4 linked regions of the Homo sapiens genome follow. The protein of the gene in region 3 interacts with the protein of the main gene of each other region in a biochemical or structural test. Each region holds a gene or a part of one and is shown on either strand. Other genes may lie near its edges.

The links.
Region 1: the proteins of RNF19A (region 3) and UBE2L3 form a complex in vitro, tested with the Homo sapiens proteins (3 studies listed by BioGRID).
Region 2: the proteins of RNF19A (region 3) and UBE2L6 form a complex in vitro, tested with the Homo sapiens proteins (one study listed by BioGRID).
Region 4: the proteins of RNF19A (region 3) and UBE2D2 form a complex in vitro, tested with the Homo sapiens proteins (one large-scale study listed by BioGRID).

Annotation. Positions count from the first base shown.
Region 1 is NC_000022.11:21,622,124-21,624,534, reverse strand, and holds the end of UBE2L3 (ubiquitin-conjugating enzyme E2 L3), read right to left. Parts: 3' UTR 501-2,411; downstream 1-500. UniProt on the Homo sapiens protein: Ubiquitin-conjugating enzyme E2 that specifically acts with HECT-type and RBR family E3 ubiquitin-protein ligases.
Region 2 is NC_000011.10:57,557,673-57,561,172, reverse strand, and holds part of UBE2L6 (ubiquitin/ISG15-conjugating enzyme E2 L6), read left to right. Parts: intron 1-740; coding exon 741-836; intron 837-3,500. UniProt on the Homo sapiens protein: Catalyzes the covalent attachment of ubiquitin or ISG15 to other proteins. Functions in the E6/E6-AP-induced ubiquitination of p53/TP53. Promotes ubiquitination and subsequent proteasomal degradation of FLT3.
Region 3 is NC_000008.11:100,289,454-100,292,953, reverse strand, and holds part of RNF19A (E3 ubiquitin-protein ligase RNF19A), read left to right. Parts: intron 1-3,500. UniProt on the Homo sapiens protein: E3 ubiquitin-protein ligase which accepts ubiquitin from E2 ubiquitin-conjugating enzymes UBE2L3 and UBE2L6 in the form of a thioester and then directly transfers the ubiquitin to targeted substrates, such as SNCAIP or CASR.
Region 4 is NC_000005.10:139,616,839-139,620,338, forward strand, and holds part of UBE2D2 (ubiquitin-conjugating enzyme E2 D2), read left to right. Parts: intron 1-3,500.

The DNA.
Region 1 (2,411 bases), on a different chromosome or scaffold from region 3:
GCCCTTGCTGAGTTAGCACCACTGCCGCAGCACCCTGGCAGTGGGCTGTACTGGGGACTCAGAGTGTTTCTGGCTGGCACCATTCATGGACATGGCCCAGCTCCACCCACAGGCACACCCTTATCAATTCTGTGACCTCTTGGGACCGCAGGTTTGCCTCTTCTAAACATGGATTGTTAACACTCCCAGGAGGCTCCAGGATGACCCACGCATGTAAGTGATGCACCCACACTTTAGTCCCTGTCCCCTCAACGAGACGCCCAAGAGCGCCCTCTGCAGGCCCCGACTGTCTGAAGTCTCCGGCTTTCTTGCTGATTATACCTCATCTCCTTCCCTCTAGGGAGGCAGGAACACTTCTATGTACCTCTTTTGGAGAGGCTGGGAATGGGGAGAGAGATCAGAAGCCCCAGGACCTGGGCCCCAGCCAGCCCTCCCATCTCCAAGAGCATAGGCCCCTGGCACTGCCCGCTCCCAGGAAGGAAGAAACCCACACGACTAACCAGTGTCTGAGAGCATTTTTATTACGGGCAGCAGAACGGGATCGCAGCATCTTAGAAAGCCTATTCTCTGCCGTGGTGGGGAGTAGGGAGCAGAGGGAAGGACCCAGCACACTTCAAGAAACCAGGCGGGTGTGAATTCCTGAGTGAGCTTGGGGCAGCAGTGGGTGGCTGCTCCACAGCTCGCCCCTCCTCCAGAGGACCCAGCTTTTTGGTTTTGGAGCAGCCAGGGCTGTTCGCCAGCTTGCTCAGAGCCTACCCTGAAGGCATGGCTGGCAGGAGCAAGCCGCCCAGGCCCAAAGGAGAGACACCCACTGGCTCGAAAGCCAAGCCTCTGCTGACGGGGCCAACCCTGGGGTGCCAGTGCCAGGGCTGAGAGTCCCTGAGGGGCTGCCGGCACACAGGTATCCTCCCGTGATGAGCAGAGTGCAGTGAGGGGTTGACAGGCAGGCAGAGCTACGTTGGCAGAAATACGAAGCAATGGGACAGTTTCCAAGAATGGCAACATTTCTGGATCCAGAGAAGCAACAAGAACAAATGGTGGCTTGTTTGGATAGCTGACAGAATTTGGCATTTTATTACAAACTGGAGTGTGAGTGAAATAAAATCCATCATCACTTTTCTGCTAATGAAGACAGATGTGGAAACGCCAGCCCGGTGCCCTTGCCATCCCGGGCACAAGGGAGTCTCCAGAAACCTGCCCTTGGCGTACCTAGGACAAAAGAAGCCGAGTTCGTGTACACACCGCAGGGGCCATGCGCCTGAACAATGTTAGGCTGCCGAACCTGCCCATCACTCCCCACTTCTGCACAGACCAGACCAAGCTGTCTTACACGCCTGTAGGCCCCGGAAAGATCTCAAGTTATAGAATTAAAATTAAAACAAAAAGCAAAGTTTAAGTCATCTTCTCCACAGGATCTAGTCCCCCCCAAGAGCCAAGAAGGGAAGCCGCCAGTGGCAGAAGCGGGGTTGGTGACACACGGCATTTGGATCGTCGGCTTCCTTGGGGTGTCAGAGCGACATGGATTCTCTACTAGTGCGGGGACAATCCCATTTGCCTTGAAAAGACATTAATATTCAAATCTTTACAAGTTTATCTGACGATAAATTCTAAGGTCAATTTTTATTTCTACAAAAAAAGGCAGTCAAAACAATATAAAACACATTGAAAGGATATTACTGAGTGAGCTTCAAGTGGAGCTTGACTCTGCAAAGGCTGTGAGTCCGAAGGGAGAGGAAGTCCGTCTTGTTCCCGGGCTGGGCTGGCTGCTCTGGAGGAGGGGGTCAGCAGGGGCCCAGGCGACCCCAGACTGGTGCTTTAAATAGCCGAGTCCTGCTAATTCCAATCCTACAAAGGGTCAAAGTGTGCCGAGGGAGGGCTGTGGCAGGGCCACTGCACGGAGGAAGTGGAGAGCAAGCTCCGTGGCACATTCGGATGAAGCTCGGTGACAGATGAGCTAGGAGTTTCAAACGGACATTCTGGCTGTAGCTTTGCCTGCAAGGACCAGCAGATCTTCTACAATGGCTGCAGGGAGAAGTGCCAACCTGGGACCTCAGGAGCCTTTCTGGCGAGATTCATCACACACAGTGTGCACAGCATCCTCCTGACTAGCAGGCCCCCCATTTCGGGGCCACCACAGACCTGTGATTATAGGGCTTCTCTGTGCAGGCCAGGCCAGAGGTCAGTTACACACACTGACATCAGGGCTTGCCCAATTAACTGATGTTACTGTGGTAACATCAGCTGGAGTTTCACACAAGAACTGAGGAGAAGGACTGGAGGAGGGGTGTGGCTGTTTGTTTTTAAATTTTTTAAAAGGATGTTATAAACTGGAGTCAGGAGAATTTAAACCAACTCCCACACTGGGCAACAGTGCCACACATGCTAAGAAAAGCCACCAGGACCGCCAGGGC
Region 2 (3,500 bases), on a different chromosome or scaffold from region 3:
AGATGCTCAGTCGATGCTTACGGAAGGAAGAAAGGAAGAGAGGAAGGGAATTAGAACCTAGTGACTTTCTAGGAAGAAGGCTAGAGAGCAGAGGTTAAGTACCCTGCTTTCAGGAGAAAAGCCTCCTAAGAGCACTTACTCCCAAGTTTTAATATCTGGGAGAAGTGATCTATTTTTCCCTGCACCTAGTACCTAGGTGTACCAGAGTTGTGGTGAGGCCACAGTCAGAAAATTCACTTAAAGCACCAGCACCGGCTGGGCGCGGTAGCTCACGTCTGTAATCCCAGCACTTTGGGAGGCTGAGGCGGGCGGATCACGAGGTCAGGAGATCAAGACCATCCTGGATAACACGGTGAAACCCCGTCTCTACTAAAAATACAAAAAATTAGCGGGGCGTGGTGGCGGGCGTCTGTAGTCCCAGCTACTCGGGAGGCTGAGGCAGGAGAATGGCGTGAACCCAGGAGGCGGAGCTTGCAGGGAGCCGAGATTGCGCCACTGCATTCCAGCCTGGGCAACAGAGCGAGACTCTGTCTCAAAAAAAAAAAAAAAGAAAAAAGAAAAAGCACCAGCACCATGCCTGATACATACTAAGTGCTCAGTAAATGTAGGCTCTGACTTTACCGGCTTCTGCCCCTAAGATGGCCAGTTTTGAACTTGGGGCAGCTTGCTGCTGGGGCAGGGGGAGGGGGCTGAAATAAGGAGGACTAGGCCAACTGCCCACTCACTTGTGTCCCCTGCAGGAGCTGGAGGATCTTCAGAAGAAGCCTCCCCCATACCTGCGGAACCTGTCCAGCGATGATGCCAATGTCCTGGTGTGGCACGCTCTCCTCCTACCCGTGAGTATCCATGGGGACCATGGCTTTGGATTGGGGCCAAATTAGGCCAGGGACATGGGCAGGGAGGGTTAGGACTAGGCAAGAATTTTCCCTGCTTGAGATCCTTTTACTGGAGGTTATCATTGCTGGAGGGGGCTTCTCTCTGAATTGATTGCTTCTGAGATCCAGATACTTCTGAGGTTCACCTTCTGATAAAGATGCCAAAGGACTTTTGACTTAGTAGGAGACCCCTTCCTTAAACCGGTAGCCACCAAGCCCACCACAGAACTTCAGGAGACAAACAGCATCAAAAAGAAGAAGAAATAAAGATTTCTTGGACCTTTGTCAAGGGGTAGGGATAAACTTCCAGGCTCTCACAGTTGGGAGAATTTGCTCCCGCAAACCTAAATTGTATTTTGTTTTTCTGTAGTCTTATTTCAGAAAATTGTTACATATGAAAACACAAATAGCTCATTTCTACTGTTCTTATTTTTCTCTGTTTATTATTTGGTATTTTCTTGATAAAGTCTCTCTGAAAGCAGTATTCCAAAATAGTTTTCAGAGTGCAAGATCTCTCTTTTTTTCATCCGATTATTAGTGACTAAAGATACTTTGAGAAATTAATCTACACTTTTCATTACTTGGAAATAAAATTTAAGACATTGAACTTTTTGTTAGTCAAAGCTCTTTGGAATATCAAAGGAACAATTCATCTTATCATTTAGGATTTGGACTTGTTTTTTTTTTTGAGACAGAGTCTTACTGTGTCACCCAGGCTGGAGTGCAGTGATGCGATGTTCGTTTCCTGCAACCTCCACTCTGGGGTTCAAGCGATTCTCCTGCCTCAGCCTCCTGAGTAGCTGTGACTACAGGCACGTGCCACTATGCCTGGCTAATTTTTGTGTTTTTAGTGGAGACAGGATTTTGCTATGTTGGCCAGGCTGGTCTCAAACTCCTGGCCTCAAGTGATCTGCCCACCTCGGCCTCCTAAAGTGCTGGGATTACAGGTGGAGCCACCACACCCGGCAGGATTTACTTTTTATTGACAATGCAGTGGCCTAGGTTGTGTCGTCTTCTCTTTAAACTGACCTATAGTCCAGAAAAGTAGAGAAAGGCCTGAGTCAGGTCAACATGGGAACCTCTGTCAAGTCCCTTGGGTTACTGTGTTGAAACGATCCACTTACCTGGCTTAGAGTGAGGACACCTGTTCTAGGCCTCAGGTGCCGGGAGAAGATGCTCAAAGGAGCTCCAGGGACTGATTATATCTCCAAGGAGACCAACTTTGAGATGATGAAAGCAGGGGTGATAGGAAAACCTAGGAAAGGTCTCGTTTGGCAGAGTACTATGAAATCAGAGGACCTCAATAGTTGGCAAGACCAAGGTGGTTAAGTGCGCCCCAGGAACTGGCCACAGACCTTCCAGCCATATAGGAGTCCTGAAGAAACATGATACTTGGGAGGAATCCCAGAGCTGGAGGACCAAAGCTTGATGTAAGTCATCAGCTAAGGGGGCCTGAAGGTGCCTGGTGAGGCCATAAAGGAGGGGATGGTTGACTGGCAGAGGAAGGAGAACCAGGAAAGGTCTTTTGGAATAGCACACAAATTCCTCCTCAAAGGCTCAGTCTCAGTTTATGTGTTCACCAAAGTGGCCCCACTTGTCACATCTTGGTCATGGAAGGATTCAGCTCGATGAGTCTTTCGAAGCTAATAGTAAAATTCTCATTCCTTGAGAGTTTCCTGTGGACCAAGTGCTGTTTTAAGCACACGACATATGAGGTCATATTGAATCCTCTCAACCATCCAGTGAGGAAGGTTGTCTTCCTCTTAAAATTGCAGAGATGGAAACCAAGGAGGTTAAGTAACTGGTCTGGGGTCACTCAGAATAAGGTGGCAGGAGTGGAATTCAGCGGACTCCAGGGTCTTCTCTTTTAACCACTCCATGAAAAATGAATAGTTTTCAAAATTTTTTAAAAAGTAGCAGGCCGGGCACGGTGGCTTACACCTGTAATCCCAGCACTTTGAGAGGCTGAGGTGGGTGGATCACTGGAGGTCAGAAGTTTGAGACCAGCCTGGCCAACATGGTGAAACCCTGTCTCTAGTAAAAATACAAAAATTAGCTGGGCATGGTTGTGGGCACCTATAATCCCAGCTACTCAGGAGGCTGAGGCACGAGAATCACTTGAACCCGGGAGTTGGAGGTTGTAGTGAGCTGAGATTGGGCCATCGCACTCCAGCCTGGATGACAAGAGCAAAACTCTGTCTCAAAAAAACAAAACAAAATAAAGTAGCAAAATCCTTTATTTAACCTAGAACTTAGAAGGTAGTGGGACTTTCTCAACTGACTGTAAGATACAGCATGGAATCCTCTGGTCCAGCTTCTCCATTTTACAGACGAGGAAACTGATCCTCAGAGAAAGCTCAGTCATACAGCAAGCCCGAGGCAGAGCTGGGACAGGTCCCCGGAGCTCTCAGCTCCATGACTCTGCTACCTCCTTCCTCTGTTAAGTCCTACGAAGCCCAGAAAGAAGCCCCTTCAGGCAGGACACACTGATACCCCTGTCTTAGTCCATTAGTGTTGCTGTAAAGGAATACCCGAGGCTGAGTAATATATAAAGAAAAGAGGTTAATTTGGCTCAAGCTTCTGCAGGCTGTACAAGAAGCATGGCGCTGGGCATGGTGGCTCACG
Region 3 (3,500 bases):
TGAAATTGGTCCTGGTACCAAAAAGTTTGGGCACCGCTGCACAAGAAAGATTGAAAAGTACCAGAAAGTAAATATGTAACAATTAGGTTTCATCCTCCAAAAGAAGACTTGGTAAGCTTATAGAGCAATGGAATAATTTATAAATAAATAAATAAATGTCTCAAAAATAAGAAATTAAAAAATTAAATCAGTATGTATGTAGGGGGTGGGGCATGGAGGAAAGATCATTATTCAGTAACTGGTGTTGAGGTAACTGGCTAGCCATTTAGAAAACAAATTTTGATCTCTACTTATTCATAAACTATCAAATTACCAGTAGAAAACATGTGAAGGGATTTTAAAAATATAATCTTAGAGTGGGCAAGGCTTTCTAAGGCTGGTGTAGAAGTCAAAAGTCAGAAAGATATGTGAATTTGAGCACGTTAAAAACTTTTGAAATTTCTACATTGGAAAATTGCCATATAGTCAAATACAATTTATACGTACACACACACACACACACACACACACACACACACCCATATGATAGCAAGCCTCTTTATTAAATAGAACTATGTCTTACACATCAGTAAGGAAAAGTGCTGCAGCAGGATATAAACATGTGCCTAGTGCACAGAAAGTGAAATGTAAATGACTTGTAGTGAGACAATACTAAAAATATCTTTGCTATCAAAGCAAATGTTCCTCGTGGATTCCCAATCTCACATGCAAATACATAGCCATTAAAGTTAAATTTGTTTTTTTTATTCTTTATTATCTTCTCAACATAAGCATGTGCTGAAGTTTAATAGCTTGTTATTCTTTTGTAATACAGAATACAGCATTTAACATAGTATTTTTTATTTGTCTTCTTTATTGACAGTTTCACTTGAGTATAGAATAGCTTTAAGCTTCTGTAGTGACCAAGTTAGTGATCAGTAGAAACTCTGCTGGGAATTATCTGTACCTATTCCATCTTTACTTGAAAAAAAAAAAAAAAAAAAAAAGACTTAGTCCTCTTTCTGTTCAACAGTGCTAGTAAATATTGTCACATGCTGTTTTTATTGCATGCTTATTTTAGAAGTACCATACATCTGGATGTCAGACATCTAAAAAACAAATTAAAATTAGAAGACATAGGTACACTGCTCTTACATTTAGTATTTTGACCATCAGCACAAAATTACTGGATTTTCTCCATATTTTAAGCTGTTTGAGAAGTGACAGAAGAAACCTAATTTTAGCTGAATAACAGAAGCAAAAACTGTTATTTGACCATGTAGTAGGTTTTCCTCTTGGGAAGTAAGTGTTTTCTGTGTATGCAAACTTTTTGCCCTGCCTTCTTCATTTCCAGAATACCTTTCTAATGATGTGTAAATCATTTAGGCAGATAGGTGGCTATTAGATGCTGCTGAAGTGTTTATGGTTAGATGTTTATTGGTGGGATATTATAAATGTATAATTCTTGAAGTTGTAGTGTCAGGATACTTAACATGTTTTACGAATCCTGAAGCACTTCTGAAGGTAAAAGGTTCTTGTCTTTCCACAGTTAAAAAACTGGATGTAGTAAGGCCGTATGGCTTAAGGATCACAGAGTAATAGCAACTGAAAAGCATCATTCATTCATTTAATACTAAGCACTTGCTATAAGGTACACATTTTGTAAAGCACTAGGTTATCTTACATTCCATTTCAGCTAACATTTAGTACGGTGCCGGGTTTGTTAGGCAGGTTTAACACATGTCAATTTCATATTATTCTTAGAACATCTATTTGAGGTGAGTGGTATCATCCATATTTTGTGGTCCTGATCACTGATTCAGGAATATATCTTACCTAGGATATGATAACAAAAAATAGCTGAGCCAGGTCTTTTGACTCCCAAGTTCTCTTCTTTATACATACAATACTGGATGTTTTTTGTTTGCATGTCCAGATCTACTCTCATTCAGCCTTCTCTACCCTGCTCTGTGCCCCAGGAGGTTGACCTCTAAGGACTGCCTTAGAGGCAGTTGGCTTCTGGTTGGATTTACCCAGTGTGAGGCACTGGCAGGATATCGGAGAGCCAAAGAAATGAAACATCTGTGTTTAGGTACACAGATATCATTGTGTTGCAAATGCCTCCAGTATTCACTACAGTAACATACTGTACAGGTTTGTAGCCTAGGAGCAATAATCTATACAGTATACCCTAGGTGTGTAATAGACTATAACATCTAGGTTTGTGTAAGTGTGCTCTGTGATCACACGACAAAATCACCTAATGACACATTTCTCAGAATGTATCCTGATCATTAAGTGATGCATAACTGTATTTGTATAGATTGAGCTCTCTGACTGTTCCTTATCTATCCTGTGTTTGTGAAGGGAAATATAAACCGAGGGACATGAGGTGAAGTTTGTTTGAGTGAAATGTTTTTCCAGAGAACACATGTTAATTAGGAGGTCAGCCATAGGAGGAAAAAAACACATAGAAAAAGGCACATTAATCATGAGTTTCTGGGTCGTGTATGTATCACAAAGTGAACATACCTTTGTAACCACTATGCATACTGCACATATTAAGAAAGTTTGGCTGGGCACTGTGGCTGACGTCTATAATCCCAGCACTTTGGGAGGCCAAGGCGGGCGGATCACTTGAGGTCAGGAGTTCGAGGCCAGCCTGACCAACATGGTGAAACCTTGTCTCTACTAAAAATACAAAAATTAGCCAGCATGGTGGCGCATGCCTGTAATCCCAGCTGAGGCAGGAGAATTGCTTGAACCCAAAAGATGGAGGCTGCAGTGAGCCGAGATTGCTTCACTGCACTCCAGCCTGGGCAACAGACACAGACTGTGTCTCAAAAAAACAAAAAAAGTTCCCTTTGTGCCTCACCACAAAATGTAGCCACAATCCTGACTCCTAACATTGTACATTAATTCTCTCTGTTTGGAACTTTTTATAAATAGAATTATACCACATACTCTTTTGTATGAGAGTCCTGTCTTGTGTGTAGCAGTATTTTATTCCTTTTCATTGCTTCATTGCTTTAGAGTGTGAATATACCACAAATTATGTATTCATTCTACAGTTGATAAAATTATGGGTTGTTTCCAATATTTTGAATATTATTACTAATGCTATTGTGAGCATTGTTAAGTATGTCTTTTAATGTATGTGTACATTCATTTTTCTTATGCATTCCTTTCTAGGAGTGAAATTGTTGGGTAATAGGGCATCTCTGTGTTCCAATTTGATATTGTTAAACAGTTTTCCAAAGTAATTGTGCCATTTTACACTCCCACGAGTAGTGTAAGAGAGTTCCTATTCTTCCACATCCTTGCTAACACTTGGAAATGTCAGTCTTTTAATTTTAGCCATCCTATTAGGTGTGTTGTCTCTGAATGTGGCATTAATGTGTTTTTTCCTGATGACTGATGATGTTGAGCACTTTTCATATCCTTTTGTGAAATGCCTGTTAAGTCCCCTGCCCGTTTTTCTATTGGATTGTCTATGTTTTCTTATTGATTTGTAAGCATTC
Region 4 (3,500 bases), on a different chromosome or scaffold from region 3:
CTTACAGTAGAGGAAAAAATAGATCGGTTCCAGCACATGCATTTAAAAGAGTATTGACCCTGGCCAGGCATAGTGGTTCATGCCTGTAATCCCAGAACTTTATGAGGCTGAGATGGGCAGATGACTTGAGACCAGGAGTTCGAGACCAGCTTGGCCAACATGGCAAAACCCCATCTTTACTAAAAATACAAAAAATTAGCCAGGTGTGATGGTGCGTGCCTGTAGTCCCAACTACTCAGGAGGCTGAGGCGGGAGAATCACTTGAACCCGGGAGACGGAGGTTGCAGTGAGTCAAGATGGTACCATTGCACTCTAGCCTGGGTGACAGAGGGAGACTTTGTCTCCAAAAAAAAAAAAGTATTGATCTTTACAAATATTGTGAAAATAGGAAAATACTGTGCTTGAGAAAAGCAGAAAAAAGAAAAAAGGCATATACACTGTAACAAGAGTTACATATAAAAGTATGTTGAGTGTCCAGAAATAGACAAGCAATGTTAGTTTTGGTATTTGTGTGGTGAAATGTGGTGTGTGATTTTTTTTTTTTTTTTTTTTTTTGAGAGGGAGTTTCGCTCTTGTTGCCCAGGCTGGAGTGCAATGGTGTGATCTTGACTGACTGCAACCTCCGCCTCCCGGGTTCAAGCAATTCTCCTGCCTCAGCCTCCCAAGTAGCTGGGATTACAGGCACCCACCACCACGCCTGGCTAATTTTTGTATTTTTAGTAGAAATTATCTGCTTATAATTTACCATTTGAACCATTAAGTAGAAATTATCTGCTTATAATTTACCATTTGTTTAATGCATGTATTTAGACAGGAAGCAACATAGTTTCATGGTAAAGAACATAGATTCTAGATCCAATTGCCTGTGTTCAGATCTCAGATCCACCTCTTATTAAATGAGGCTAGAGACACATTGGCCCCTGTATTCCTCAGTTTTTTCATCTGTAGAAAAGGAACAATAATACATATTTCATTGTTGTTACGAAGATTAAAGAAGCAAAAACAGACAGTTAACTGGTTCCTTGTAAGTACTCCAAAAACTGGGGATAAAGGCACAGTTGTCAAAAGTGTTGGGTATTTGTCATGTTATCACTTGGATGTCAAGACTCAATCTTAAAAAAAAATTATTATTATTATTATTTGTTTTTTTTTGAGAAGGAGTTTCACTTTTGTTGCCCAGGCTGGAGTGCAGTGGCGCAATCTCGGCTCACCACAACCTCCACCTCCCGGGTTCAAGCCATTCTCCTGCCTCAGCCTTCTGAGCAGCTGGGATTATAGGGCATGTACCACCACGCCCAGATAATTTTGTATTTTTAGTAGAGACGGAGTTTCTCCATGTTGGTCAGGCTGGTCTCGAACTCCCAACCTCAGGTGATCCGCCCGCCTCAGCCTCCCAAAGTGCTGGGATTACAGGTGTGAGCCACTGCTCCTGGCCACAAATTAATTTTTTAAAGCAAACAAAACTCTGAGACATTAATTTAAAATTTTTGGAGTCCCAGGCAGAAATAAAAACAGGATGCCAGAGAACCACATTTTTTTAAAGTTATTACAACTTTAATGAAATAGTTTTTTAGAGAAGTGTCCCCTTTTCTTTTGGTAGGCCCCCTTACAATTCAAGAGCTACTTGAGAAAGTGTTTGTGGACCTGTGCCTGGCCTGGTGAGGGTCCCATTGGTTGCACTTCCTTCACCAAATAGCAATAGAGATGTAAATCTAGTAATGGGACCAAGATAAGTAGAATTGTGTGAGAGGTGTGTGTTTGGTGGGGTGAGGTGTTGGAGACACAAGATAGCTGAAATTATTGCCATACCTCTTTTTGTTCTTCCCCTTGCCTAGCGTTGATTTTTTTTCAGCTATTCCAAATGATAAGGACTGTTACAAGTCTGATTTGTTAGGTTCTCTCTATCTGGATAGCTATCCTTTAAAATAGTTGCAGTGCCATTTTGTTGAATTTGATTGTATTAACTGTCTCAGATTTAAGGTTTTAATGAGTCCCTTTTTGTAAATTGAATGTATGGGCAAGTAGTTCTATGAAATGCCTTAATCCTGTATATGATATTATTCCTTTAACATATAGTCTGTCTTCAAGGACAGAAATTTTGACCCAGTATTCACTCTACTTTGAAGGTCCGTGATGGGGACCTAAATATTTAAAAAACAAAAACAAAAACACTGAAAAAAACTGAAGGGAAGCAGATAAGTGTGCCATAAAGCCATTTGATTATATGTTTTTAGAAGTGAAAGTAACTGTTGCTGTAACACTAGTGAAAAAGTAATACTGGCCAGGCGCAGTGGCTCATGACTGTAATCCACTTTGAGAGGCCAAGGAAGGTGGATCACTTGAGGTCAGGAGTTTAAGAACAGCCTGGCCAACATAGTGAAACCTGATTTCTACCAATAATACAAAAATTAGCAGGGCAGGGTGGTGTGTGTCTATAGTCCCAACTACTCGGGAGGCTGAGGCACAAGAATCACTTGAACCTGGGAGGGAGAGGTTGCAGTGAGCCAACATCACACCACTGTGCTCCAGCCTGGGCAACAGAGCAAGAGTCTGTCTCAAAAAAAAAAAAAAAGTAATACTGATGAAGAATATATATAGGTAAAAGTTCAGTGAAGAGACTATACAGGTTATAGAAATAAGAGTTACTATCTTTACAGAAGAAGGTATAGTATATGTATCAGTCCATTCTTGCACTGCTATAAAGAAATACCTGAGACTGGATAATTTATAAAGAAAAGGGTTTTGCCAGGTGCGGTGGCTCACTCTTGTAATCCCAGCACTTTGGGAGGCCGAGATGCGCAGATCACTGAGGTCGGGAGTTTGAGACCAGCCTGACCAACATGGAGAAACCCCATCTCTACCAAAAATACAAAAATTAGCCTGGCTTGGTGGTGCATGCCTGTAATCCCAGCTACTTGGGAGGCTGAGGCGGGAGAATCGCTTGAACCCGGGAGGCGGAGGTTGCAGGAAGCTGGGATCGCGCCATTGCACTCCAGCCTGGGCAACAAGAGTGAAACTCCGTCTCAAAAAAAAAGGAGGTTTAATTGGCTCACAGTTCTGTGGGCTATACAGAAAGCATGGCAGCATCTGCTTCTGCGGAGTCCTCGGGAGCTTTTACTCATGGCAGAAGGCAAAGGGGGAGCCACCTGTCTCACATGGCAGTAGCAGGACCAAGAGAGAGATGGGGGAGGTGCCACACACTGTTAAACAGCCAGATCTCATGAGAACTCTATCACAAGAACAGCACCAAAGGGGTCGTGCTAAACCATTCATGAAGGATACACCCCCATAATCCAGTCGCCTCCCACCAGGCCCCACCTCCAACGTTGGGGATTACAGTTGAACATGAGATTTGTGTGGGGACACAGATCCAAACCATATCAGTATATTAGAAACCAAAATGAATTCTTCATGAAATCAAGAAGCTAAGTAGTGTACTAAAAATCTTTTCACAAGGTCCAGATAGCCAGTACTCTCCTTTCCTGGAAAGAAAGAAAAGC